Linked DNA regions of Homo sapiens: regions 1 and 3 are each linked to region 2. Evidence: fine-mapped expression QTL. A gene starts in region 2. Each other region holds a variant in brackets. All regions are shown on one strand. Distances are between the middles of the regions. Region 1 overlaps ASTN2 (astrotactin 2). Region 2 holds the start of TRIM32 (tripartite motif containing 32). Region 3 overlaps ASTN2 (astrotactin 2).

Evidence for each region. PIP is the estimated chance that this variant, and not a neighbour inherited with it, causes the effect.
Region 1: its variant is fine-mapped to the expression of TRIM32 in monocytes (TOPMed, PIP 0.96).
Region 3: its variant is fine-mapped to the expression of TRIM32 in monocytes (BLUEPRINT, PIP 0.95).

What each region holds. Positions count from the first base shown.
Region 1 is chr9:116,705,011-116,713,195 of GRCh38, forward strand. The region is part of intron 16 of ASTN2 (astrotactin 2); the gene reads right to left. Among named protein-coding and RNA genes, the nearest start is that of TRIM32, 22 kb to the left of the region's middle. The variant A/C (reference allele first, on the strand shown) is at 3,670.
Region 2 is chr9:116,683,805-116,691,989 of GRCh38, forward strand. TRIM32 (tripartite motif containing 32) reads left to right here and starts at 3,501. Exons shown (of 2, transcript NM_012210.4): 1 at 3,501-3,577. All of the region lies in intron 16 of ASTN2 (astrotactin 2), which reads right to left. RefSeq lists enhancers at 3,168-3,487, 3,928-3,977 and a silencer at 3,558-3,757.
Region 3 is chr9:116,604,695-116,612,879 of GRCh38, forward strand. All of the region lies in intron 19 of ASTN2 (astrotactin 2), which reads right to left. The region is part of intron 1 of LOC105376240 (a long non-coding RNA gene); the gene reads left to right. Among named protein-coding and RNA genes, the nearest start is that of TRIM32, 79 kb to the right of the region's middle. The variant C/CTA (reference allele first, on the strand shown) is at 4,628.

The DNA.
Region 1 (8,185 bases), 21 kb after region 2:
GAATTTTTTCTCTAGGTCAAAATTTATTAACTCAAATAATTATAAAAATAAAAGTAAGCCACAAATATCCCTGTTAAGTGGTTAAAGCTTGAGCTTTGTAAGCAGGGAGTCCTGAGTTTAGTCCTGTTTCCCTCAATTATTAGCTCTATGACCATTAAGTCACTTAACCTCTCAGTCTGTTTTCTCACTAGTAATGACTGTTTCACATTTTATTGCAGTATTGTGAAGAGATGATGGATATATAAATGCCATTTAGCAGAATAAAAAGCATTTTTGAAATTACAGTAAACCAAATATATCTGAAATTACCTCATTTTTGTGATATAAAGATGATATGAAACTGGTAAGGGAAAGTCTAACCCCTGCAACCGCAAAGGAAAATTATTTACTAACTCACTGAAATCTTGATTGAAACCATGAAGAGTTTGTGTGAATGTATATAAGTCAAATGCATGTTTTCCCTATACAGATAAAACCAGGATTTTCTTGTGGTGATTTACCCAGTTTACCTGGTTATAACTATAATGGCATTGCATATTGTGAAAGAATATCAAAACCTGAGATTCCATTTATTCACTCACTTATTAAACATATATAAGACATCTACCCTTTATTATTATTAGCAATACTTAATATGAGTAATGAATGCAAAGAAAATCAGTCATGAATTTTGTAGTCAAGTAGCTTGTGGTCTGGCTGCAGAGATAAGGTATGTAAACAAATAATAAAAAATACAAGAGAGTAAGATAAATGGTAACAGGATAGAAATGGAGTGCCAAGTGTTTGAGTAAAGACTGCTGAGAAGATCTGGTTGCTGAAGGGCCTTAAAAGTAAAGGGAATATCGTGAACAAAGGTACAAGATTAGGATGAAGAGTGAGAAGTTGGTGCCAGAAGTTAAAACCACCCCAGAATGAGGGGACATTAAAGAAATTCAAAGGTCTAAAGTGGTTAAGTAATAATTCAAATGGTTCTTTTTTTTTCTGCCCTAGTTTATATGACTTACTGCCAACAGTACCCATGGCTCAGTGAGGCTTCATACTTATAGAGGTGGTAGGGTATGAATCAGAATCTCCTTAGAGTCCTGAGGGTGGAGGGCAAAGGCATAGTTTGAAAATGCATACCCTCTTCGGTATTCTAATATCTCTCCTGATGGGGAATCACTGATTGACATTGTCTCAGAAATACATTTTCTGTCCTTTAAAAATTCTGAAATAATATCAAATTTTTCTCCCCTCAGAAGCCTACGCCAAATAAGTGCTGTAATCTTAGTACAACTTTGTAGTACAGTCAGACTCATTTGTTGATGTCTGACTGGCTGAGTTTTTAAAACCTATTATTCCCCCTTCCGCCCCATATCTGGACATGCCAGTAAGAAAGCTCAAATGCTTCCACCTTTGTGCCTGGTGGAAGTTCAAACCACCTAAGAATCCTCACTGCAGCCCTACCTCCAAGCCACTAGGAAAAGCCAGGCTCCTCTACTTTCCCTGCTCAAGCCATTTCTGGACCTGCTTGAGAACTCGCTGCTCTCTGTAAAAGCCTCGTGTGAGTGATAAACCTTTTCATATCTATTTGGTCCTAATGTAACATCAGTCCTAACACCTAAACCAAGTTTTGGGTAAGGGGTTCAACCTCTCCTCTGTGGGATGACTAAACACTTTATGCAACAAGCAGAGGGTCTAGGAGATGACCACTACCACTGCAGGGCTCTCCTCTTGCTTTAGTTTGCTAACTGACTCTTGCTGGCTAGAATTTTTTTTTTTTTTTTTTTTTTTTTGTCACTGCTGGCAAGCTCATGCTTTGTGCTGTGCTGCTTTGTACTGCGTTCACTGAGCCTTACCAAGCTTCTGTTATAGATGTGCTCAGCTAAGTTGGAATTTTTGATAATTGGCATTTAAGAACAAGAATAAAGTGGCATTTAAGAACAAGATTAAAGTGGCCCTGGGTCATGTGTCTTGGTCGAGACTTACCTGTGTCTCTGAATTGTGTTTCTGGATCCCAGTGTCAGCTGTGACTGTCACGAGGCTCAGAGGAATGACTCTTACCCTGTGACTTTTGGTTGTTTATCTCAACCAGGTGTTGCCCTCATTGTATGGCGTACTCAAAAGAAACAGTCATACCCTATGCAATATGCAGGCTGGTTGGTAGTCACTCATGGACGAAGACCATGTTGAATGCTATGGTGCACACTCCCAAAAGCAGATGGTTTACTAGGACTTTACAAAATGCCTTTCTTCCTACTTCTGCCTATGCCCTATGCCACTATGCCCCCTGACCAAAAAAAAAAAAAAAAAAAAAAAAAAATTCCTGATCCTAAGGGTTATAGGGAAAAGCATCCATGCTATAGCCAAGGAGTTCTTTCAAAGCCAACTTAAGCACTGGGTCCTCAAACCCTATAAAGCAACTGTTGGCACGGGAGAGAACCTAATCCTGATTATATGTATTTGCAACTCTGGAGGAAGAATCTTACACATATGAGCAGGATCGAGAGGACCTTCCCTCCTCCCCAACCCCTCCCCACACCACCACCAAATGATATACGGTAGCCACCAAAAGGAAAATAAAATAAACTTGGATACTGGGGGAAAGAAACAAAAAACTAAAACAGAGGTTCACAATTTGACCCAATTGGAAATCCAAAATTAAAGAATTTTTGCAACAACAACAAAACAAGATAAAAGGTTACTATTTGGCTTTTGTACCTCTACAACCTAGGTTCCGAATTAACTTTTAACATTTGCTGAAATGCACCAGTTGTCAACCCTTCATAGCCTTAATATTGGGCTTCAAATTATACCTGGAATTCCCCTAAATTTAAACAAAGTACCCCTATAATCTTAGGGTAGTTAACTGAGGATATTTTAGGACATGTTAGGAAGACAAATAGATATGCCTCATCTTAATCAGAACTATTGCCCTGCCTAAATTCCCCCATAGCCATAGCACCCATTAACTTAAAATATCCCATAGTGGGCATGGATGCTCTAACCCAATGAGTAATAAATTAAAATTGAATTAAGTCTTTGGCACTTACAAATCAGCTTGCCAAAATGGGACGGCATGGACCTTCCCCTCCTCCGTTAGTTAAAATAGTTAATATGGCCCAATTTAAATTAAAACAGAGTCTTTGAGGTTTGAAACCCATATACCAGACCTATTTGGAGAAGAGTGACTATCCCCACTGCTTCACCATTAATGGCCCAATGTAGCCTGTTCAGAAACCTAGAAAGAATGAATGGCATCTCACAGTAGATTATTGCCATGTTAATGCTGAAGTTCTATCCAATAAGGCTCCCATATCAAATATTATCAAAATTACTAACTTTAATCAACAACTGGTAAATACTTTTAATTCATAGATTTGGCTAATATTTTAGCAGCGACTCAGCCACAATTTGCCTTCACCATCAAAGGGATGCAGTATCCTTTTACTCAGCTACTCATGGGATAACAACAGCCAGGTCTTCACACAGCCTGCAGACAAGATCTTGACCACATTTAACTTTCTTCAGGAGCACAGTAAACACTGATCATACTGATCACATCATCCTCCAAGAAGGTTCATTTGGCACACTCACTGAGGACACATATAGTCATAATCATAAAAGAGCTCACGAAAAAGGGATGGACCACTACCCCACACAAATTACCAAGTCCTTCCACCTTGGATA[A/C]ATTCCTGAAAGCTATTTAGCTGAGGGCCATTCTATCCCTGACACTTGCCAGAAACAGCATTCGCAATTTTTTTAAAAGCCCAATATGTTTTAGTCTATTTTGAGTTCTGGAGACAGCATATTTCTCATTTACAAATTTTACTTAAACCCGTTTATACTATTACTTAAGCTCACTTATGAATTATAATACAGGCACTGCAATTAGTGACCCCTGAGAGTCCTTTACTTAAAGGCTTTAGCAACCTCCTCCCATGATTCCTGAAGTCTCTGGCCCACACTTGATGGCCCTAAGTTGCCCACAGGCATCTTGTGCCATAAACTGTCCCTTCAGCCCCATGCTATATGCCATTAGAGTGCAATTGCTGGCTGCATATTGGACTCTCCTGGAAACAGGCTGGTTGTCACCGGCCCTCAGCCTGTGACTCTCCATACCAGCTGCCCATTATCCCTTGGGTCTTGAAATCACACCCTAAAAGTTCAACATAGCCACTGAGGTTTCCTTGCTGTAGCATAGAGCCAAACCTGGCATATTTCACCTATAGGAAAAAGTCTCCCACCACCACCCTCAGCCCCTTGCTAAATACCATGGTGCTGGTAAAAGTCATCCCCCTTCCCAGACCCTTTGGATATCTGTGGAAGCCCTTGCAATCAACAGAGTGAAGAGTAAAGGGAGTTTCTCCACTTTATAGATGGTATCACTACCATTGTATGTGATGGAGCTTGCTGGAAAGTTCCTGATTTTTAGCCCATAACTGGGACATCCCTGATAATGAAACAGGACCCAAGTCAGCACAACTGGCCAAACTTTATGCGGTCCTTTTAGCACTGAATACCCTGACCAACATCTGCACAGTTCTATAGACTGTTGAACCACTGCCAGTGATTTGCTCATCTGCTCCAGCCAATAGCAGCAAAAACAGTTTTCTATCCAAGGTTGCCTCTTTGGGTTAAATAACTCTGTGACTCTCTTGCCTCATATATATATACTTATACTCAAAGTATAAGTCAAGGTCATTTCTACTCACAATAAATCCACAATAAAAGGCCTCATTAACACTTTAACCCCTTCAGTAGTCTAGAAATTATTGATAGTGACTAAGGCATTCATTTCACATCTCAAAATACATAATATTGGGCTCTTGTACAAGGCATTTAATGGAACTTTCACCTCCCTTACCAGCCTCAGGCTGCAGGCCTCATAGAAAGCCATAATGGTTTATTTTACCTAAACAAGTTCAAGTTCAATTAAATGAAACATGCCACATTTCAGTCATCAGTCAAATATCAGGGATGAATCGTAATAAAGATTCTGACTCCATTTTTGGTACTTGACTGCTAACAACTTTCAAATTCTTCTACTTACTCCCTCTTCTTCAGCTTCACATCTGGGAAAACTGATAGGGAAGCCTAGGTAGGCCTACCTTTGGTGCCAGAGGGAAGCTCAATCCATGCAAGCCCCAGATAATATATGAGAACCTCCCCAACCTTACCCTACACCCCTCACCTCCCAATCCAAGCCAGTCTCCTTTCCCTGCTTTCTCAAACCATGTTTGGACCTGTTTGGAAGCTCCCTCTGCTCTCCCTAGAAAGCTTCATTATGTGAGTGATACATCTTTTCATATCTTCTTGGTGTGTGTGTGTGGTATCATCAGCCTCAACATCTGAAGCAAATGTTGGGTGGGGGTACATCCCACTACTTCTGAGTGACAACAGATGTTTAGAGTTAAATATTGAAAGAAATTTCATATTACGATAAATGACAATTTCAGACCAGGTGCAGTGAGCTCACGCCTGTAATCACAGCATTTTGGGAGGCCAAGGAGGGGGGAATCACCTGAGGTCGGGGGTTTGAGACCAGCCTGACCAACATGGAGAAACCCTGTCTCTACTAAAAATACAAAATTAGCAAGGCATGGTGGCGCATGCCTGTAATCCCAGCTACTCGGGGAAGTCTGAGGGAGGAGAATCACTCGAGCCCAGGAGGTGGAGGTTGCGGTGAGCTGAGATCACACCATTGCACTCCAGCCTGGGCAACAAGAGTGAAACTCCGTCTCAAAAAAAAAAAAAAAAAAAAAAAAGAAGAGAAAAAAGAAAGAAAATTTTGTAAGTTCTGAGCAACCACATGAATAAAGCCATGTGTTTTGTGAAATGACGTTTAATATTTAAACTTAAAACTAGTAATAAATCTCTAAATCTCTCAGACCCCAAGATATGAAACTTGTTTGACACATTTAATGATTCTGTAAAAGTGTAAGAAATGAAGTTAAATGAAGAATGTCATGGCCTGAAAGGATGGAAAGGCATTAGACATGCATATTACCTTGCCTGATCCAAGACTCAGGGACTGGATATAGAAGAATGAAACTTCCATTAATTGATACACTGGAAGAAAGGCCACATACAAATAGGCAAATATACCGTAGACCCTGCATAGAAGGCTAATTAGCTAAATGTAAGGTGCAAATGCTCAAGCAACAACCCTGAAAGTGTGTATTCCTCCTTTCTGCTCTGGCGACTATGCCTATTTATTCTCCTCAATGAAATGGGCATATTAACTCCAGCCTATTTAATATGTACTACAACTACTCTTCAATGCCCCATAACATTTTACACAAGTAAAAGCTGCCTAAAAATGAGCAGCATAGTCAGCCTCTCTGAATGAAATAAAATGTCTCTAAATAAAATGTCAGAAATAATACAAGGTATGGCAGCAGGAAAGTAGCTTAAGAAAACAAATTGCAAAAGGGAACATTTATTTTTCTTCTGGACGATACCATCTTTTTCTATGACTTCAATCATGTATGCAGCTACATACCAAACTGTATTTTTCATGTCTTACCTTCTTTTTGATCACCAGATTGGTGTATACCCAGCTGCCCATTTTATATTGCCAGTTGTATATACCTTAGGAATCTTAGACTCAGTATATTCAAAACTGAACTTGGCTCTACCATACCTGCTGCTCCTTTTTTATTTCACCTAAGGAACTCCAGCAGTCACTCAGGCCCTTAAGTCAGAAAGCTTGGCACCATGTCTAATCATTTTCCTCACCTTTCACCTTCTACTGTCCCATCATGAAGTTCTCATCATTCTAGCCACTTAATATTTTTCACATACATTAATTTTTTTTCTGAATCCTCATGGCTGCTAAATTTTAAGCTATTATTTTTCTCCTTGAAACACTACTACAACTCCCTAACTGATCCTCCTAACTCTAATCTAGCATCTCACATATACTTCCTCCCATCCCAAGTCAAGCCCTATCCCACACTAGCCAGAGTCAAATTCTAAAATGCAAATGCTAATGATAATATACAAAACCTTTAAATGACCTTTAAGTGCTCCTAGCAAAGGTACAACTTTCTTAACATGGTCTATACATCCCAGTGGGATTTGATTCCTGTCCATCTATCTTTCTAGGTTTATCTTACCACCACTTCCATCCCCTCTAGAGCTTTGCTCCATCCACAATTTCTTTTTTCTTATCTCAGGGACATTTTTGTACATGCTTTTCTTGCATCTTGGAACATTTACCTTCTCCATACCCACCTGTGTTGGCCTAAATCTTACCTTCTTCAAGTGTTCTGGAATGCCCTTTTGGATCCACCTTAACTGTTTTGAGCCAGGTGTTCATGCCACACTTTATATTTCTCCCTCTAGCATTTACATATTTCATGGTGATTTTTCTCATTAAATATCTTTTTCCAAGACTAAAATGAGCTCTCTGAAGGCAAGGCAATATTTAATTTACTGCTGCATCCATAGCATCTAGCACAGTACCTGAAACATAGTAGGCACTATAATTGTTGCTGAATAAAACCAGAGGTCAGCTTAGCTCATATGTTGACATATGTGAGCACTCTGGGTCACAATTAGCATCAGCTGGTTATGCCACCTCCTGCTTCTCCTAGTACCTGCATCCCTGAATCATTAAGTCTAGCTGCAATAGAAAGTGGGGTATGGTTGAAAGGTGGGAGGAGTGGTTCCCTCTGATTTGCTTTTCCTTAGAGAATCTTCTCAACTGTAAAATAATTGAAAGTTGCGTTCCTTTCTAGACTCAACCCGAACTTTGTTTTGGTGCAATGTCACCATTGGAAGAGAAGGCTCAAAAATATACCTTTCATTGTGTGTTATATGAAATATATCTCAATAAAGCTGTTACGAACGTAAAAATGTGACCTTGAGCAAGTGAGTTTCCACGTTAGGAAATGGAGATAATAAATGCCCAGCATACCTCCTGGCATGTAATGAATTCTCAGTACATGTCATGTGGACTTGGGAGTCAGACAGTCCTGAGATGGAATCCTGTCTCTGCCTATTAGCAGCCATGTGACCTTTGGACACATGGCCTTTTGAATTGCCACTCAACACACTTCCTTGGATGGGGGAAGAAAGAGAGAGTACTAATCCTGTTTGAGTCCTAATATTATTAACTAATGGTTCTCTTTGGGCAATTATTTTTCTTCTCCATGGCACTCCATTTCCACCATCTATATTTGTTAAATTAAGGATCTTT
Region 2 (8,185 bases):
CTTAATTGCATAAGTGCAGTAAGAATCTGTTTTTGTCTTGTAACAGGACACAACTGGAGAAATTGATTATTTTACCAAGGCTTTTACTGGAATGGCATGCTTCCTTCAAAGAATCAAAATTAATGTATAGAGCCAATTAAAGCCCCCTGGGGAATCTAACCTCAGACCTTGTCTATAGTCCCTGTACAAGGTTCTGTCATACAGTCCCTGTACAAGGTTCCTGACCTGTGGTAAGTAAAGAATGTCACTTTCTAACAGGCCCAGGAACCCCAAGTTATTTTGGGACCTTGAGAAGAGAGGAATTTACCCAACTCATAGGTATTTGAGGATACAAACCCATGGCTGAGCTTGGCTTTTAAAAACTCTTATCTGAGATTCCTCATGGAACAGAGTTCCATCAAAGCTAATTTAAACAAAAAAGACCCTAAGTGAAAAATAATTATTCTTGCTGCACTTTATGCAAATAATCAGGCCAAGTATAGTAAGACTAAAGTACATTTCTGTAAACAAATCAGTTCTATCATGATTTGTTTTTAATAAAAATGGGGTCTGGAGAGAGAGAAATTATGCTTCAAGAGGAAACCTATTGTTAGCTGTTGTTAGCTGTCCTTGAGTTTTTTCTACAATTTTGACTAAATCCTAAATTATTTGTGGGTTGGAAGTCGCCAGACTAATGCTTTCAAATCTTTGCTTTTAAAATTGAGTATTGTACTCCTCATCCTAGGACTCATTATTTACCTTATAGTAGGCTGTTCACCTAAATACTGTACTAAAACTATAGATGAGAGTACTAATGTTTTTGCCATGCAAGCCTTAGAAGCCCAGCCAGACCTGCATGAGTCGCTCAGACACTTGAAAGTGGTCCCACTCTTCTCACCTTGGGGTTGACTCCCATTCCCACTACGTCCCCTGTCAGCAAGAAGAACCCAGAGCAATCGACAGCCTTTTCCCATCTTCATACCCTACACTTTAAGATTAAGGTGTTACAAAACCCAAAGTGATGGACTGAAACTGCCTTTGCAAAATTATGATTGAGACAGTAAAAGAGATCTAACTTAACTGACTCCATCTTGCTTCTAACTTCCAAGCTGTCCTTGTTCATTCCTGGGCATAGGCTGAACTAACTTTGGGAGAAATTTAGTCTGTAGTTCATAGTTTAAACAAAGACAGTAACAACCCTATCCCAAAGCAGACCTCCTTGCCTGGGTACTAGATTGCCTTTGTAGGACTAACATTAGCCACAAGATTAGAAATTGCGGTTTAGGAGTCATGCAGCTGGAGGTTACAAGATGCTGAGCCTCCCTAAAATGCTTCTGAGATCAGTGCTTGAGATATTTTGCAGACCCTGCACTTGATGGATCAGCTGGCACCACCCAGATCAATAAACTCACTCATCTGATCTTGTGGCCCCCCCACTCAGGAACTGACTCACTGCAAGGAGACAGCTTCGACTCCCTATGATTTCATCCCTGACCAACAGCGCTCCTGGCTCACTGGCTTCCCCCAACCCACCAAGTTATCCTTAAAATCTCTGTTCCCCAAATGCTCAGGGAGATGACTTGAGTAATCATAAAACTCCAGTCTCCCGCACAGCTGACTCTGCGTGAATTACTCTTTAACTATTGCAATTCCCCTGTCTTGATGAATCAGCTCTGTCTAGGCAGTGGGCAAGGTAAACTCCTCAGGTGGTTCCACTGATATAGGTGATTTAAGTGTTAAATAAAAATCTGTTACATTAAAATGCTGAATAAAGAGTGTTTAAAGCACTCCACAAAGATTATTTTTTAAATGCCTCTGTGTAAGAGGAATTCTAATATTGTGCCAGGATATGTCAAGCTATAAGATAAAAATTGAGTGCATTTCCTAGAATGCTTATTCTACTCTAAGATTTTGTGAGAGGTATAATAATTCATTTAACTGGTAATAAACATTAAAGAAGAGTCAAACACTGATTTTTGTTTTAAGGGAGAAGAGAGATTTTTTTTTTTCAAGACACTTGCTTGAGCTAGATCCCCAGGAGTATTTTTAACACTCCTCTGTAATTAGGGAAACATCAGTATGTCTGTATTGATACATATACACACATATATAATATGTATATATGTAAGACTATGAACAGTCCTAAATTTATACTTTGGGCTGATAACTGTGGTTTTCAGGAAAAAAAAAAATTTTAAACGGGTGCAAAGTCTCCCCAACTGGTCTAAGTGAGAAATCATTTGGCATTACCTCTCCCTTATCCCCTACCTGCTAATTACAATTTTTCAAATATAGTTATCATTAAGTGCAAACTACCATAATCTTGGCTTATCTTCATGGCAAACTTCAATTAGAAATTTAGAAAATGGGGAGAAAGAGTAAACAAGGTTAAGAGAGTGGGTTCTCAGATAGAATTGGGTACAAATTTGGGCTCCAACACTTAGGTATATGTGGCCTTGTGTAACCACCTAGGTTACACAACAGGTGTAGGTTAACCATCAGCTGCCTTATCTCATTAGGTCCTTATGAGGATTTAGTGAGCTATGCACCTGAAGTCCTCAGCTGTAGCCAGACAGCAAGTGTTCAAAGATGTTAGTCATTGTTTTTGTTTATTGTTTTATCATTGTGCAGGGTCACATAGCTAAGGGGAATTTCAAATCCAAGTCCATCCTACTTCAAACTCCTTTGTGCTCCTAAGCTGTACAGTATAGTCACCTTGGAGAGTAGGTGATTGGCCCCAAACTACTTCAGGGACTGCAGGTCGTGGCCAGCCAGTCCTGTATCAGACCTCGTCCTTGCCAGATGCCTAGTGCCCCAGATTCCCTCAAATCTCAGGCCAGATCACCTCCCACCTGGTAAGATTCCTCCACCTTCACCCGAGCAAAACTACACTTGGTTTGGGTTCCCGGGTACCTTCAGTCTGCAGGGACAGGGGCTGCAGAGTGTACTCCCCAAGTCTGCCTCTGCTGTCGGCCTCCCAGCTGAGTAGGCAAAACATTCCTTTACAGAGCAATGTGTTCATGGATAAACTTGTCTCTAGTGCAGCTCTCTGTCAGAGCACAGAACATGAGGCCAAAGCACTGCCCTTCCTAGGGAGTCCCGGTTCTCGACTTCCCCAGAATGGAAGTTTGATTTTTCCGTTGGCCCATTTCTCAGATGGAAAAACAGATTCAGTAAGGTGCCAACGCTTTGCTGAGGACTACCCTGGAGGCTACCGTTTTGTGAAGGGGTAGACATTGAGACTGGAGTCAGATACGCATTCTGGCTTATCTCCTGACTTACTGAGTGAACTTGAGCAGGTCCCTTTCGCCCATGGGCGTCGGTTTCTTCATCTGCACCAAGGAGACGGAAAACTGGATTACGTGTCGCTAAGGCCCCGGGTTCTCAGAGGAAAGCTCACCCCTGCAGGGCCGCCTTGCCCCGCGCGCTTGGGGCCAGCTGCACGACAAGCCCCAGCATGCTGGGGAGGCGGGGCTCAGTGACGGACAGGGAGCTCTGCGAATTGGCGCCCGGCAAGGGGTGCTCAACGGCGCGTGCGCAGAGGGAGGCAGGCGGGTGGGCTGCCGGCGGTGGACTCGTCGGAGCCGCGGGCGGTCAGGTAGGGGGCGGGAAGGAGGGTTGGGGACTGGGGACCGCGGCCGGAGTCGTGGGCCGTGGCTCAGCGGCCAGGCGGGGGAACGTGCCGGCGTGCAGCGGCCGCGCCCGAATGGCAGGGTGTGGGGACCGGATCTGGGGGGGGCAGGACTAGGGTGGGGGTGGGGCTGCGAGGGGCAGGCTCGGGAGGGATTCGTGGGGCTGAGGAGATCCGAGGAGATGCAGCTGGGGGAGGGGAGCGAGGGGCTCTGAAGAGATTTGCGGTTGCAGCATCTCGGGAGGTATGAGGTAATGTCGGGGCCCTGAGGAGGAACGGGGTGTAGCATGTGGGAGATGGGAGGGAATCAGGGCCCTGGAGGGACCTGGGTGCAGAATTTCAGAAATATGAAGGAACTGGGGGGCCCCGATGAGATTTGAGGAAATCTGGGGGCGCTAGGCATCTGGCAAGGACAGGGTCTGAGATGATAGGAGCAAGGTCTAGGGCGATCCTAAGTGCTATTGAGAAAGGGTTTTCGGAGTGGGCTGAGGGTGAGATTGAGGGGGTGGGGTGAGTTCTTGAGGGACTCTATCTTGTTAGCAGAAAGAAGGGAGCTGGCTGAGGTGTGAAGGCAGCACATGACATTCAGTGCATAAGAGGAAGGAGCAGGGTATGAGGGCAGCACAGTGCCCGATGGAATGCAGGAGATGGGGGCTCAGATTGAGGGAGAGCAGAAATCTGGGGTGAGGAATTGGGGCGTTGAACTGAGGTGCGGGGCTGAGTGTGGCAGAGATTTGGAAATAGGGATTAAACGATCTGAGTCCGAGGGATTTGGGGCATATGAGTGAGGAATTGACGAGGGTTGCAATATACAGCCCCAAAGATTGGAATTTGGAATTGTAAGAGGGTTGGGGACAGGGTTTGGAGAGGATTGAATCGTGGGGTGGAGATGTCCTAACTGGGCTATAAAATCAAAGGACCCTGAGTAGATTTGTGGATTGGTGTCTTGGGCTGCTAAAGAGATTTTCCTTAAATCGCTGCATGGGAGACAGAGGGAGTTCAGGGGACCCAAGGACCTAAAAGTAATGTATGAAACTGGATGAGTATATGAAGATGAGCAGAGTTCAGGTGCTGAGGAACAAAGTGATAAATCTTCAGTTCAGATAATCCTGAAGGAGTGTGGTAATCCCTGTGAAGGGCAGAATCTTCTTCATTTATTAAACAAAGATCCGTTATCATGAGGCAGGTATGGTATTGCCACTAACTCCATTCTGACCACCGGTCCCCCGGCCCACTGAAAGTGGTAGGCTTTGGGGAAGAAGAAGTGGAACTATTCAAGGTCATCTGCCTAAGCCCTTTTTCCCTGTACCCCCAAGCTACGATAGCAGATAGAAAGTGAGACCTCCAGGGGAATGAGTGGAATAATTTATCCTATATAAGATCCATTACAGCTTGAAGGGGCAGTGGCTCTGTGAGTGAGGTGTTTGGGCTCGGAGACAGACAAAACAACAACAACAACCACCAGAAAAAAAAAAGGGAACCCTTAGGTATTGAGCATTTAGTCCTGTGCTAGACTGTAAAGCAGTGGTTCTTAACCAAGTCTGGCTTTGTCTCCTAGGAGACATTAGGCAATGTCTGGAGATGTTTTTTGGTTGTCACAGGGTGGGGGATACTACTGGCCTCAAGTGGGTAGATTAAACATTAAACATAATGTTTTATGTTAAACATTTGACAATGTGTGGGATACGCCCTTCCCCCCCGCAGTAAGGAATTATCCTGCCTAAAATGTCAGTAATGCCAAAGTTGAGGCACTCTGACCTAGAGTCAGATACCCTGGGTTCAAGTCCTAGCTCTATCTCTTCCTGACTTTAAGTCCTAGCTCTATCTCTTCCTGACTTTGTGGCCTTGAATGAGTTACTTAACCACCCAGTGCCTTGGCTCTTCATCTGTAAAATGGGGTTATGATAACAAGACCAATGTCACAGAATTGTTGTGAGGATTTAGTGAAGTAAACTAGCATGCCTAGGATCTGGCACATAGTAAGTTCTCAAAATCTAGTAATTTTTAGTCTTGTATCTACTTCTTTACTCAGTTTTCATGACAGTCCTTCTAAGTAGGCTCTACTGTATTCAGTTTTACACATGAGGAAACTAAGGCTTAGGAAGTGACTTGCCTAAGTTTCCATAGCTAGGAATGACACAGTTAAGCTCATACCCAGATCTCTGTAACTCCGTATATTCCCGCTTTCCTTGCTTCTTCCTTGCTAGGGCCTGCTTAGTCTTATTTTCTCAGCCCATTCCCCTCTAATGAAAAAGAGGATTGCCAGTGAGTATCACTGACTATCAGATTGAACTCTAAAGTTGGGGGGTAAATCTCTCTGATTAGGTAGGGAGGAGCCCTGGACTTTGTTCTTGGTTTGCCCTTAGACCAAGACCTGGGGCTAGATAAGGAGAGGAGCCTGAGGTTATCAGGCAGGATGAGGTGCAACGGACTATAGGGTGAGGTATGGAGGCCATTGGCTTGAAAAAACACCTCATAGCAGGGACTGAGGCTGAAGGCAGTCATACTCTGAAGGAGAGTAACTACTGTTCTGTATGGTCTCTTTTGGTCTGCTTTTCCCTGGAACAGAATTTGGCTCTATCATTTCCAGGACTAGCTACAGGGTTGCTGAAGCCAGTTCAGAAACAAAGCTAGACTGTGTCTGACAGCAAGACTTAGCTGGAATATCTGTGCACATCCCTAAAAGAAAATATGTCATGGGAATTAAATCAGCCCTGTCTAAACTCCTTACTCTAATTTCCTATGTTACCTTGTCAGTAGCTACGGCACTTGTCCTGTCAGCCTCAATCTATTAAAAATGCAAATGATTATAATTTGTTGAGTGCTTATTATGTGCATTATCTTAGTGAATTCAATCCTGCTAACAGTCTAGGTTTTATTCCTTGTTTACAGATAAGAAAAATAACAGGTTAAATGACTTACCCAGGGCTACAGAGCAAGTAGCTAGGTTGGGATACAAACCCAGTTCTGTCTTACACCTATGTTACATTATAGTAGTTTTATTAGAAGCCTTTTCCAACCCTTCAGAGCCCCTATGTTTATGTCTGGAGAATAGTTGGAAGCCAGAAGTTTATAAGGCCCTTAAAGTAGATCATTGTCTATGCACACTGATGTGTAACCTTTGTGACATTCCCTCCATCTTGTCTTTCTGGTAAAACAATCAAATTTAAAAATCATTTCTAGGTGCCCTTACCAACCTCTCAGCCAGACTTTGTCTAAAGCTAGGGAACTATGAAACATCCTTTAAGTTAGTAATTTTATGGCTGGGAGTTGATACTGGGATTTGAATCCTTGCTCTATTACTTATTGGTTTTGAGACCTTGGACAGGCTACTTTCTCTGAGCATTGGTTTCCTTATTTTTGAAGAGGAATCACACTTACTTTACATGGTTATTATGAGACTATGAGAACATATAAAAAAATGCCTGACAATAAATAGTAGTTGCTTTAAGAGTGTTAGCAATTATGAGAGGAAGGCAGTGCTGGAAGAGAACTAAGTGTTGCTTTGTCATATTTATTTATTTATACAGGGTCTTGCTGTGTCACCCAGGCTGGAGTGCAGTGGTGCAATCACAGTTCACTGCAGCCTCAACCTCCTAGGCTCAAGTGATCCTCCCATCTCAGCCTCCCAAGTAGCTGGGACCACAAGTGCATGCCACCACACCTGATTATCTTTTAAATTTATTGTAGAGATGGTGTTTCACTCTGTTGCTCAGGCTCTTTGCCAGATTTTGATAACCCTAAGTAGTCTCTGCTAGTCTCCCCAAAATTCTCATCCCATTTTGTATATTTCCTAGGATCTCCTTGATCCTTTAATCATAATCTCATGATTAAATGAACAGATGTTATATGCAGAGAAAGGAATTGAAAGAGAGAGAGGGTTGAGGTTAGTTGGAGGTCCCTGAGAAGGGGCTATTGATTTTTCCTTTGTCTTATATTCCTTGAGTCATACTGGCAGCGTAGGTACTACTCAAATGTTTGTGAAAGATGCAAGGGAGTCTTTCTAGGTCCTGCAGTTTTAGAGGAAGACAGAGACAACAGGCAAGCATGTTTTCCAGGAAACCCTATTATTCATTTAGCCTGCCCTTGACATAGTTTAGCTATGTTTAACTTAGTAATTTAGCTAAAGTTTTCTTTCTCTACAAACATACTTCCTTCTGGATCGTTTTGTTTGCCCCAGACTGGTACAACTTCAGGAGCATGCCTGTGTTTCCCTATAAGCCCCTACTTGTTGAGTTTATCTTAGTTGTCTGCAGGTGCCTTAAATGCCCTGAGTAATCTAAACTTCATCAGAATCCTCTCCCACACACAGGAGTGGATGTCAGGTGATGACCTCACTGAATTCGTTAAAGTCAGTCCTGCTAACGAGTGGCCTTTGGTGGCACAGTGATAGTTTTGCACTTGATTAGCATTCTGTTAGAATGCATGAGGAATAAAGTTTAGAAAGCTGACATAAAAGGAAATGAGATAAACCTTGCAAAAAACCCAGTCAAACCAGGGGAGCGTGTCAATAGTAGGATGGACCTTTATGTCTTGTGAAAGGAAATGCAATATTTTACATGTTGTCTAGTTTTT
Region 3 (8,185 bases), 79 kb before region 2:
TACTGGAGAAAAGAGACCTTGCTGTCCTTCACCTTGAGTTATTCCTCATACAAATTCACCTCCATAACTGCTCCCTTTTACTAGAGAAAATTTTCAGTCTAAGGTCTGAGATGGGATGGTGTGTGTGTTGGGATGAGGAGTGTCTTTTCAGTTGTAGATTATCCTTAATGATAACAGGGACAGAGAAAGAACAGGGGAACTGAGAGTGGATACAGATGGCCTCTGGACATTCTCCTTTACCTGGATGTAAGTCTAAATCAGCAGCTCATATCAGAGCCAGCTTAGAGAGACAAAGACAAGCAAAGGTCAGCTGAGACATGGGCACAGAGTGACATGGAATAAAAAGAAGAGAGAGAGAGAGACAGAGAGCCACCAAGGGAAGCCGACACACATAAAGGTAGAAAAAGAAGAAAAGAAGGAAGGAGAGAGGAAAGGAAATAATCAGGAAAGGATATAGGAAGAAAGAAACAGAGACAAGAGTTGAGAGTTGGCAGGAAGCAAGAGTGATACTGATCGGGGGGGAGAGGCCCAGTAGGCTCCCAGATGCCAGGGCAGAAAAGGGGCACTGACCAGCTCCAGATGTTGCTGCCTTGTATGAGGAGGTGCCGGGGCTAGTGGATAGGGCCTGCTGCCTCTGTGAGTGCCAACAGAGCCAGATGGCCTTCCAGCCCTGAACTAAACAAGCTGAAGCTGAGAATCCCATGAAGAAAAAGAGAAGTTTCTGATTTTTTTAAAGTTAAAAAAAAAATCCAGCAGGAGAGCAGAAGATGACCAAAGAAAATGCATGGGGGTGTGGTGAGAATATCACCAGACAGAAAAACAGGAGATTATGATGCTAGGTGTGACCTATCCCTTCTTGTCCTCACTCTTCTGATCCTTACACTGAGGGTGGCGGTTTCAATGCTTAAGGTTCTTCTACTTGGAACTTTAGGGATTCACAGAAGCTAGTTTATCAGACAAAGAAGTGGGAAGCCTGATGGGCTACAATCCCCTTTACAAGATCAGAGCTCACTAGTTGCTCACTAGTTGCTGTCAGTGGCTAGATACTCCATTCTGTCAAGCCACACAAGTGTCCTATATCCCTTTATTTCCATCTGCCTCTAGGTCTATTCTCAACAAGAGCAAACTACACTGGAGGTAATATGAACTAGTGAAAAATCTTTGAATGTAGTGGATGAGGGTGTGGGAGTAGATAGGAAAGAAACCAGAGCCCTAGTTCTAGCTCTGGCTGTACCAGTAACTCACCATGTGTGTAAGCTCTGGACAAGTCCATCTCCTCTGAGCCTTTTTCTTCGTAGGTCAAACAGGAGATTTGGATTTATTAAATCTGCCTGTGCCTCGGCCCAGCTTCTTACTCCCACATCTACCCTGCCCAAGAGGCTGAAACCCATGCCAATTGTTCTGATGAGGCCATGAGGGAGAACCAGACGTCTGTTTTTAATACTGATGACAGATTAGCGTGCGGGGCATTCAGCCACCCCCCACAACAAGCCCCATTTCTGCTCAAAACAACTGGAACAGGAGACTACTTATGCTTGGCTTTCCTAACAGCGTCCCGGAACTGACCGAGCGATGGCTTCTCTGAAGGAGACAAAGAGGGCGCCAAACCTAGAGGTGGGGGCAGGGGTAGGAGACAGGGAGGGAGAGTGAGCATTTCAAAAGTTAGTTCAGAAGGGTGTGAAACAGATGGCAGCCATAAAGTGTGTGTGTATGTGTGTGTTTGTGTTCATGTGTGCACATGGGAGAAAGAGAGAGAGAGAGATCTGTGTAAGCACCTATGCCTGTGCACATGCACGCATGAGCTCGTGGATAAATAAATAATTCCAGCACTGGACTTGGCTGCCAGCAAAAATTCAGAGAGATCAAAGGATAAAGCCTATGTTTCCCTATTCTGGCCTCACCTGACCAAATGTGTGAGTAATCCTAACTGTCTAACCAAAACAAGTCTTAAACCTTATTTTGTTTTCTTCCTAACATTTATTCCTCCCTTTAATTTTTTTTTTTTAATTCATGGAAATAGGAAACAACAAGAAAGTATTAGTACCTACTGTGTCTCAAGAACTGTGCTGGAATTAACCCTTAAAAATAGCTTGTGAAAAAGGTGCTGTTTTTCCCATTCCACAGAAAAGGAAACTGAACCCTAGAAAAGATGTTGACTACCCCTAGATCTCTCTCACTGAGAAGTGGTGAAAAATAAATCCAGAAGCCAGGTTTTCCCAAGTCCATATTTTTTCATTAGGCTTGTATCCTCAAAGATAAAACTCAACTGAGTGAACTGAGAAATTTCAATTTAAGCCAAGTTCATTTTCCAGAGGGTTTAGACATGATAAAGGTGACACAGAAGCAAACAGATGAGGTGAATGTTTCAGATGTACCCTCCCAATCATCTACAGCATCAACTGGTCATGACACATTTTTAGAAGGCTTACCATGTACTCAGCTAGGTTGTAAGACTACAGAAGACCCCATAAAACTACACAGTGCTCAAGGAGTTAATGCAGAGTCGAAAAGTTAAGACATGAATGTGTCTAACCATATGCAATTCAGTTCAGTGAACTGAACATCCATGTATGACAGGCACTGTGGGGAAACCCCAACATATAAGGATACAAGATTCATCATCTTGTATCTTTAAAAACAACTGCCCACCCACAAAGTCAGGAATTGGATAATGTGGAGAATGAAAGTCAAGTCCTAAAACAAAGGTTAAAAAATCCCTGTAAAGACAGAAGCATGTATGTCACTGTCTTCAATCTTCTGAATGGCTACAGGAAGAAGGGCCTAGATCTGTGTAAAGTGACCCTAGGCCAGATAACCAAAAATAAACAAATTTTACCTCAATTTTAAAAAGTAACTCTTGGATTAGAGCACTGTTTCCTGGAAAATAAAGAAGAATCTTGGATTTCTATTTCTGGATTAAATGGAATAACAAGGACTGGATTTATTTGCCCTACTGCCCACACCATTAAGAAATTAACACACACACACACACACACACACACACACACACACACACACACACACACACACGCTGAAGCAGGCGGGTCACGAGGTCAGGAGATCGAGACCATCCTGGCTAACACGGTGAAGCCCCGTCTCTATTTAAAATACAAAAAATTAGCCAGGCATGGTGGCACGCACCTGTAGTCCCAGCTACTCGGGAGGCTGAGGCAGGAGAATCGCTTGAATCTGGGAGATGGAGGTTGCAGTGAGCCAAGACAGCACCACTGCATGCCAGCCTGGGCGACAGAGCGAGACTCCGTCTCAAACAAACAAACAAAAAAACATAAAACAAGCTTGTCAGCAACTGGAAATTAGGCAACAAAGTACAGAGATCCTGAAAGATGGAAAACAAATTATGTGAGCCCTAAAATTTCTCTTTGCCTTTAGAGAGTTTTCAAGCCACTGTTCAGGGAGAGGAAATGCCTGACAGATTCCCTGAATTGCCCAGACAGAGTTCTGAGACCAGGGAAACCAAAGTGATTACACTTCGTAAGATAGAGTAATGGAGAGGAGAGAGCTGCATAGAGGAAAAATTGAAGCAATCTGTGGAGGAGTTCCTGTCAACATTCATCAGAGTACTGATTGATGTATGTACATGAGAAATCTCCCAAAACAAAGGGATTAGTGAGAACAATGCCTGAGGCTCATACAAGGGCCAGTAATAGTGCCTGTCTCTACCAGCCATACTGTAAAACCTCAAAACTTATGGGCAACTTGGTAGAGCACACTGAAGGGTCCTCCCTTAGTAGTAGACAATAATTAGCCCTAGACTAAACACTGCTTCAGTTCCATCTAACAAATCTTAAAAGCAAGATCTAAAGGAATCAAATTGTTTCTCTGTGCAAAAGAGTTCAAAATGTTTTTGAACTCTTTTGAACAAAAGAGTTTGAACAAAATATTTTGAACAAAAGAGTTTGAACAAAAGAGTTTGAACAAAATATTTTGAACAAAAGAGTTCAAAAATATTTTTAGTAATACAAAATATCCAGCTTCAAACAAGGCAAGAATCGCAATGTCTGGCATCTAATACGAAATTACCTGGCATGCAAAGAGGCAGGAAAATGCAACCCATAATGAGAAGGAAAAATATCAATCAATTTAAACTGACCCAGAACTGATCCAGTTGTCAGGATTAGCAAACAAGAACATTAAAAGTTACTGTAACTATATCCCATATGTAAAAAAAATTAAGAAATAGAATATATTAACAAGACTCACATTGGACTTCCAAAGGTGAAAATTACAATGTCCAAGACGAAAAATAATGCTGGATGGGATGAACAATAAATTGCACTTCACAGAAGGCATTGAAGACATGCACTAGAAACTATCCAAAATGGAATACAGAGATAACAAATAATTTTTGAAAATGAAAAAAGCATCACTGAGATGAGTAACAACTTAAAGTGACTGAATATACATGTTGTTGGAGGAAAAGAAAAATGGCGGGAGATTTTTTAAATTGACAAAATAATGTCCAAAAATTTTCCAAATTTAATGAAACCATAAATCCACAGATCCAAGAAGCTCAACAAACCCCAAACACAAGAAATAAATGGCTAATAAAGAGAAAAGCTTAGAATCAGTCAGAAAAAAGGATCTCTCTCTCTCTCTCTCTCTCTCT[C/CTA]TCTCTCTATATATATATACACACACACACATATATACATGAATTATATATATGGGTGTATATATATATATATATATATATATATATGAACAAAGATAGGACTGATGGCAGATTTATAATTTGAAGCAATGCAAACAAGAAGACCAAAGTGTAACATATTTAATTACTAGGATAAAAATCTGTCAATTTAAAATTTCATGCACAGCAATAATATCTTACAAAAACAAAATCAGAAAGCATGCATCACTAACTGACAAAATATAAGAAATAGTAAAAGACATCCTTTAGGCTGAAAGAAAATGACACTAGATGAAAACATGAATGATACTCAAAGAAATGAAGAGTACCAAAGTTAGTATCTACATGGGTAAATATATAAAATCATTTATGCTATTACTTAAATACCGAAAAAATAATTAAGAAAAAACAATAAAGATAAATTGTGGAATTTTTAACATATATGTGAATAACACATATGACAAAAACTGCATAAGGCTTGGAAGAGAGGAAGAACAGTATACTATTATAAGATTCCTATGCTATACTTGAAATAGTATTATATCACTTGAAGGTAACTGTGATATGTTAGATATTCATGCTGTAAACCCTGAAGCAAACACTAAATTTTTTTAAAAAAGAGTTATTGCTAATAAAGTCAACAAAGGAGATATAATGGAATCATAAAAACTATCCAAAAGAAGATAGAAAAAGAAGAGAAATAAAAGATGGGATAATATTTAAAAAAAGAAAGATGATAACCTTAAACCTAAACATACAAATATCACATTATTAAGCAGGTCATGGACTCTAAAATAAATAGTTAACAAAGAAACAAACAAATATCACATTAAATATAAATGGTCTAAACACCCCAACTTTACGGTCTAAACACCCCAAAGTTAATAATGCCAGCTTGGATTAAAAAATAAGATCCAACTATATACTATCTTCCAGAAACACACTTTTAATACAAAGCAATGATAGTATAAAAGTAAAGTGATGGCTGCGGACGGTGGCTCACACCTATAATCCCAGCACTTTGTGAGGCTGAGGCGGGTGGATCACCAGAGGTCCGGAGTTTGAGATCAGCCTGGCCAACATGGCGAAACCCCATCTCTACTAAAAATACAAAAATTAGCTGGGGTGGTGGCGGGTGCCTGTAATCTCAGCTACTCAGGAGGCTAAGGCAGGAGAATCGCTTGAATCCAGGAGGCAGAGGTTGTGTTGGCTGAGACTGTGCCATTGCGCTCCAGCCTAGACGACAAAAGCGAAATTCTGCCTCAAAAAACAAAAAAAAAGTAAAGTAATAGGAAATTATAGACTTTAACACTAATCAAAAGAAAGCTGGAGTACTTAGACAAAGTAGATTTCAGAACAGAATGTAACAGAAATATGCAAGGTCATTTCACAATATAAAGGGATCCATTCATCAAGAGAATATGAAAATTCTAAATGTTTATGAACTTAAATAACAATAACTTCAAAATATATAAAATAAAACATGATAAAACTGCAGAAGAAATAAGTCCATAATCAGAGGTTTTAATACCCCTCTCTCAAATATTGATACAAGAAGACAGAAAATCAGAAAGGCTCCAGAAGACTTGAATAACATAATTAACCGATTTTATCTAACAGGCATTTATAAAATACCCATAAATAAGTGGATACACATTATTTTAAAGTGAACACTGAATACAGCAATAGACCATCTAGACCAAAAACTAGTCTCAATAAATTTAAAATGTTTAAAGTCATAAAAACATATTTTCTGACTATAGCGGAATCAAAAATCAACAACAAAAATTTCTGAAAAAACTCCCAAATATTTGAAAACGAAGTGGCATGCCTCTAAATAACTCATAAGTCAAAGAAGAAAACAAAAGTGAAATTGGAAATACTTTGAACTGAATGAAAATGAAAACGCAACATAACACAATCTTTGAGATACTACTAAAGCAGTAGTTAAGAGGGAATGACTACATTACAAGAAAGGTCTCAAATCAATAGCCTCAGCTACCATTTCAAAAATTAAAATGCGGAGAAAACCAAACTCAAAGTAAGCCAAACAAAGAAAATTATAATAAAAATTAGAGGATAAATCAATGAAATAGGAAACAATAAGCAAAAACAGATAAAACCGAAAGTTGATTCTTTGAAAATACAAATAAATGTCATAGCTATCTAGCCAAACTGATCTAGAAAAAAAACAGAGGAGACACACATTACCAATATCAAGATGAGACTAATATCACTATAATCTCAACAGATTTCAAAAGAATAGTAACGGAATGTCATAAACAACTTTTTCCAATAAATTTGATAATTTACATGGAATGAACAAGTTCCTTAAAACACACAAGCTGCCAAAGATCACTCAAGAAGAAACAGATAATCTAAGTAAATCTATATCTATTAAATAACTAAATTAGTAGTTAAAAACCTTCTTGCAAGAAAAGGTCTAAGCCCAGATGCCTTCACTGGTGAATTCTAAAAAATGATTAAGAAAAAAATACTATCAATTTTAACCACAGTGATTCTCTGAGAAGACAGATACACTTCAGAAAACTGAAAAGGAGAAAATATTTTATAATTCATTTTGTGAGACCAGAATGATCCTAATTAAAACAAACAGATAAAACAACCTACACATTCCTGGGATAAATCTCACATAGTAGGTTGTTTTATAATATGAAAATCTATCAATGTGACTTATCATATTAACAAATTTAGAGAGATAAACTATACAATCATTTTAATAGACACAGAAAATTCAACATCTGTTTCCAATGGAAACAAAACAGAGCCTTTGCAGCAGACTAGAAATAGAAGATACCTTCTTCGAGCTAACTATCCTAAATATATATGCACCCAATATAGGAGCACCCAGATTCATAAAGCAAGTCCTTAGAGACTTACAAAGAGACTTAGACTCCCACACAATAATAATGGGAGACTTTAACACCCCACTGTCAACATTAGATAGATCAATGAGACAGAAAGTTAACAAGGATATCCAGGAATTGAACTCAGCTCTGCACCAAGCGGACCTAATAGACATCTACAGAACTATCCACCCCAATCAACAGAATATACATTCTTCTCAGCACCACATCGCAGTTATTCCAAAATTGATCACACAGTGGGAAGTAAAGCACTCCTCAGCAAATGTAAAAGAAAGAAATTATAACAAACTGTCTCTCAGAACACAGTGCAATCAAACTAGAACTCAGGATTAAGAAACTCACTCAAAACCGCTCAACTACATGGAAACTGAACAACTTGCTCCTGAATGACTACTGGGTACATAACGAAATGAAAGCGGAAATAAAGATGTTCTTTGAAACCAATGAGAACAGGACACAACATACCAGAATCTCTGGGACACATTTAAAGCAGTGTGTAGAGGGAGATTTATAGCACTAAATGCCCACAGGAGAAAGCAAGAAAGATCTGAAACTGACACCCTAACATCATAATTAAAAGAACTAGAGAAGCAAGAGCAAACACACAAAAGCTAGCAGAAGGCAAGAAATAACTAAGATGAGAGCAGAACTG